2 separate regions of the Homo sapiens genome follow, and region 1 is linked to region 2. The links come from fine-mapping of genetic effects on gene expression. A gene starts in region 2. The other region holds a variant in brackets. All regions are shown on one strand. Distances are between the middles of the regions.

Region 1 (2,864 bases), 55 kb before region 2:
GTGTTTGTTTCACAATTATGCTAGACTGTCAACTCACTTCTCTTTCTAGAATGTCCTCTGCAGTGCAGGTAGACCAGAAACCACACTTCCCACAAACTCCTTCTGTCTCTGGTTCTAAGTTGAGAGTTGACCATGAGAAAAGGAGAGACCATCTTTCCTCAGAGGCCACTGCAGACAGAAGTGTAGGCGGGCAGAGGACATGAGTTTCACAGCAGTTTCAAAATCTCTTGCAAGGCACTGGCTTTGGAGCTATTAACAGCTGACAGCTGGGGACAGCTCCCTGAGACACACTGTCAGTGCTGCACGCCAACAGCACAGCCTTCTGGATGTTCTCAAGAGTCACAGCAGTGCCTGGGCCAGCTCCTGAGATCCACCCACTTTGGGGCCGCAGACACCTTCCTCACCCACCCTTTTGATGTCTAATTCCCTATGTTAAAACACTTTACACTTATAATCCATCAAGTGGTTTCTGTTTTTCTAACTGAATTGTTAAAATATGCAAAATTCACATTAAAGAAGTTTCCTACCTATCTTGTGACCTCAGTGAATGAGATGCTGCTTTATCCAATCTACTGACTTTGGAAAATCCAGCTGAAATGAGGAAAGATAATCGTGCATGTCTGGCAACCAGGTAATTTCTTTCCTATCTTTCATGTCACAGTATTTTGAGGACACAAATTCCTAAATACTCAGAAAAAAATGGTTTTATCTTAATTGATTTATAAATTATGTTAGGGTAGTTGTTAAACAGAATTTTGTCAAAGAAGCAGTACACTGTAACACTTTCAGGCTCCCATTGGTTTAAAATTTGATAAGTGTATTTCTTTGCTGACAAGTCAAACTGTTCAAATGTTATGGAGGACTAAAAAGGCCTGGGATTCACAGGCTCATTTTTTGTTTTAACTGAATCATGAAAATACACAACTTTTTTTTTTCCAGGAAAGACAGATGTTATTTACCACCAATGAATTTTTATCATATTTAAATGAACTTGAAAATGTCATTCAACTCAAATCCCTCAATCAACTTACTTCAGCCCATTCTGAAACTTCATATTGCAGCAAACCAGCCATGTGAAAGAAATAAATTCAATTTTGACTTTCAAAAAAAATAAATGCTGCATAAGTTACCCTTGTGGACCTTAGCTATTAAGGTGGACAATGACTTTATTTTCTTTACGTAAGTTTTATATTTTATTATGACATTCATTTTTTCTACATGAAGACACAAATAAAAATTATACCAACTACATAAACTATTTTGTACTTTCCTTGCTAAACCACAGATGTATTTCATGGAAAGAGGGGCCTTTAAAGGCACTTATTTATCATTGTAGGTGTGTCTAAACAATTGATATTCAAAAACACAACTTTTTGTGTACAAAATTTTACAATTTTTAACAAAAGCAGTGAAGACACTAAATAACCCAGTGGCGACCTCTTCAAAGTGCAGTGTCCTTGGTCACCAATGCAGATGCTACTGGGGCAGCCAGCGGGCTCAGAGGGTCCAACTCCAGACACTGCATCCATGGCTGTCCTAGACTGAGTTGCACTTGTA[A/G]AAGAGATGGTCCCACACCTACTAAAAAAACAAGCTACTCTAGTATCAATATGACATCACTCTTTTACCATCAATCATATTGCAAAACCATAGTATTTAACGACCAATAAACAGCCAAATACCTAATGCCACATTGTCGTTCAATTTACCTGGCTGGTTAATATCAGTCTGTGTTTGAGTATTTCTTTTGAGCACACAAAAACAAATGTATAGTCACTTGATGAGGAAATTCTTCACTTTGACTCAAATGGATTCACCATGCTGTCAGTTATGAAAACAACTCTAATTTTAATCTCCACAGGGCAACCTTCACTTTTCACAGCAGTTCTAAAACTGACCTACAGAAAAGTTCAAGATTTTTTAAAAAATTTGGCTACCATACTATGTTTCTTATTTAATTTTCTCTAATCAATACTACTCTTACGTTCCAAATATTTCATGGGAAATTTTTCCCTCAAACTTAATATGTTTCTTAAACAAATTGAAGCCACTAAAGTTCCTGTTTAAACCACTGATAACTGCCCCAGTTAAAATAATAATAATTTAAAATGATTACACTTCAAATAAAGGTACTAAAATCACGCCCCCCAAATTTGTAAGCGCTTTTGTTGTTATTGGGTACTCACTGTGAATAGAAGTAAATGTACTTGACCTGTATGAGAATAAACATTTTATCAAGTACAGCAAAAAAAACGGAACTGATTGTGAAAGCCATGGGGATGGGACTTTAAAACAGCGGTAAGACGCTGGTTTATCACCAGAAACCTCATGTGCCTCTGTGCACTTGAAGTAAAGACCACATTTGAGCAGGCCTGGTGGGCTGGCACAGGCCTCAGAACAGGTGCTGTTTGTGTGAATTCTCCTCCCTGCATTGTCCATTCTGTTCTAGGGCAGTCTGATTCTGGCAACAGGAGTCTCTAAGTTCCAATCACTCACTCACAAAAGAGTTTTCTGTAATCCCTTTTGTGGAAAAAAATGGAGTTTTTCTGATATGCAAAGCAACTTCTACCAGTCTGACAAAGTAGGTAAAATCGATGACACCCTAAAATAAAAACCTGGAGTGAACTGGTGCTCCAGAAAGATGCTGAATGGCCACAGTGCATGTGGTGATGTCTCCATGCTGAGGTTTCAGGCAGCACAGCACTAAGTATCAGGTGACCTGTGGTCCCACCAGAGCATAGTCCTCATGAAATAGGCCTAACCAGATACCTTTTAACTCATCTTTATTTTGGTTGCAAAGATGTGGTTTACTTAGCTACTTACTATTTGTTCCCATTTGAAGTCTCAGAGCTTGCCAAGTTAAACAC
Region 2 (2,923 bases):
TTCACTCAGACTTACTGTGAATATTTTCTATAATTTACTTTTCAATCATCAGCACTTAAAGTTTGGGGTCATAACCAAAATAAGGATTGATTTTGTTATCAAGAGCAACATAAGTAACATATCTGAGGAAAAATTATGATGTTAATCAGTTAATATGGTATCATATTAACCTCTACAGAAACTGTGAAGTTAAGAGCATAATTCTTAACTAGTCACGAGTCTGAGGCCAACTTCTCAAAGTAGCCTATAAGGCCTGTCCACAACACAAAACACAGTTTAACACCGTTATCAGCCTCTGCCCAGGTGTGCTCAGAGAACCTGCAGAAGAAATGTCCACTTCCAACATTATTAAATAGCACAGCATTTCATAATTACTTTCTTTTCTTCCAGATTCTGGGCAAGTTTTATATATTATATATAATTATAGTCAGAATACAACGATCTGAGGTAAACAAAAATTAACGTATACAGATAAGAGCCAAACAAATGTAAGAAATTTGTGGGAAAAAACACACAGCATTTGATCAGAAATGCAACTTTTTTTCTTTGTCTGAATTTAAAGAAAGTAACTAGAAAACAAGGTGGAGGAAATACTAGAAATATTTTATGTACGTTTAAAGGTTTTTATGTAAATTAATTAAAGGTGTATACTCAAAGAATGTCAAAGTATGTTAAAGTCATCAAGCCAAATTAAAAAAACAATACTACGATCCTCTGAATAAATAAACATACACGGTTCGCCTGCTACAGCCATACATTTTTCAGTTCCTCTATATTCGGGAAGTTTAGTGTGTTTTTCAATCCGTGAGTTGAAAAGAGGAAGAGGTCATTTGGTCGTGTCTGGATTCCTGAGCTGGGCCCCAGCCGGCTCTGGCGCCCTCCCCGGGGTGCGCTCCGCCAGCCGTGCGCCTCCGGAGCTCTGCCCAGGGGACCGCGGCGGGTGCGTGGCTGGGTAGGCCCACCTGACCACAGCCGCGCGCACCCGGAATGCGGAACGCGCCGCGCCCTTGCACCCGGCCGGGGGGCGTGGGGAGCCGCAGGCGCTCCGGGAGCTGGGGCAGTCCCGCCCTTCCTAGCCTCCCGAGTGCCTGCTGCAGAGCGCAGGGCGGCGGCCACCTGACCACGCGCACAAACAAGAAGGCGCAGCAGCCGCAGGGGCACCGCGCCTCCCTGTCGCCCGGCCAGGGAGCCCCCTCCCCAGGGTCCTCTTACCTGGACCTCCACGGCTCCCTCCTACACCTCCGACCGCCGTCACCCACCTACCCCGGAGCCCTCAGCTGCAATTCTCAGCTGATGGGCGGTGGCGTGGGGACGCCCAGTGCGCATGCCCGCAGCACAACTCAGGAAGAAGGCGGGGTTCACCCCTTTTCTATTGGCCCGCGGGGCTGAGTGACAGCGGCCCTCACCGCCCCTCCGGTTCCAAGCTAAGGAATGGGGGTATCAGCAAAATTGCAAGGGAGCTGTTCTTTGAAGCCTGACGTAGAGATGGTGAACGCCTCTTAGCCTGCGTGCAAAAAAGGACAGAATGGAGGACAGTTGTCTTCTTTATCTGGTGAAGCCAGCCTTCTTGCACGCGGGTCTTCACCCCGCCCCATTAGCTCTTGCCTGTCTTGTTTGCTAACCTTTAACTGCAGTAGATCGCGTTGACAGCTCTATCGAAAAATGCAAAGGCGAGTACACAATCCTAGCAGGAACAATGAAGGAATAAGTGAAGAGTCATCTCTGGGTGCTCACTTGTAAACAAGTTTTCCTAGTACATACAAGTCATTCTAAGCATTCCTGAAAAGCAGGGCGTAGTTTTCACAGGGTTTAAAACAAGCAGAGACAGTTCCAATGATAAATATGCAAATATATTGTAATTGTTAGATGAAAAGCATCAATTGCTACAAATGAAAGAAAGCCCTCTCCAAATTAATTAGAAGATAGATTGGCTTAGCCTTTGCCTATATTAAGGCAACACTATTTTCTAAAATGATTACCCGGATAGGTGATATCAAAAGTCCAGACGCACTTAGGTGGAAAAAAACAAAACCCAGGATAGAATTCTGATTGGAACTCACCAACACTAAGTGTGGAATGTTGTCTGCTTAAGAGAGATGGACAGAGAAAGAATAACCCTGAAAACGAGTAACCCACAAGATAGGAAATAAACCAGGAAAAGGTAAACTAGAGAATGAAGGAAAAAAGGAGGGAATTGTCCATGATGTCACCTGTTACACAAAGTTCAAGTAAATAAAGAACTGAAAGTAGTGCATTGTACTTGAGAATTAGGAAGTGGCTGGTGAACGTAGGAAGAAACATTTCAATCATTGAAGGAACACATGAAAGGATCTTACATCCATGTGAGGTTTAGTGCACTTTCCAAATACCCATTCATATTACCTTTGATAGAACTCTGGGCTCCGGGGAGGGAAGGTACAATGCACTACAGAAGAACCTGAGATTAAGTGGCCTCTTCAAGTTACCCTGATAGTTACTGACTATGCTGGGCCCAAAACTTAGCTGTCTGAGCCCTCATCTTGGGCTCATTCCAATTCCTTGTTTTAAAATATGTTATGAGTGGATTCCTTCCAGGTCTTTTGAAAACTTAGAATAAGATTTCATCCTTTGGTATTCAAATGGGAAAAAAAAGAATTATAGTCTAGACAAACTTGCAAAATTTAGAAGTATTAAGATAAATGAATTACTAAGAGTTCCTGACACAGTATTCCATCTGTGAATCTGGCTGCTACCAAGTTAAATTCAGCCAGGTGTCTTGAAAGTGGTAGGGCTTTAAAAGTCTCCTAATTTGATGAGTGATAATGTCACATCTCCCAAAATAAATCATTTCCATGTGCAGAAGTTACCTATGACTGAAAGCTTGTAATTTGGATTTTCAGAAATAGTAATTTGCGAGATTTGGGCCTTCTTGGAGAGATTTTGA

Evidence for each region. PIP is the estimated chance that this variant, and not a neighbour inherited with it, causes the effect.
Region 1: its variant is fine-mapped to the expression of STX7 in whole blood (TOPMed, PIP above 0.99).

Annotation. Positions count from the first base shown.
Region 1 is chr6:132,456,750-132,459,613 of GRCh38, forward strand. It overlaps STX7 (syntaxin 7), which reads right to left. Exons shown (of 10, transcript NM_003569.3): 10 at 1-2,864. Among named protein-coding and RNA genes, the nearest start is that of STX7, 55 kb to the right of the region's middle. The variant A/G (reference allele first, on the strand shown) is at 1,558.
Region 2 is chr6:132,511,795-132,514,717 of GRCh38, forward strand. It overlaps STX7 (syntaxin 7), which reads right to left and starts at 1,322. Exons shown (of 10, transcript NM_003569.3): 1 at 1,213-1,322. RefSeq lists enhancers at 570-1,071, 1,429-1,628 and a silencer at 789-1,278.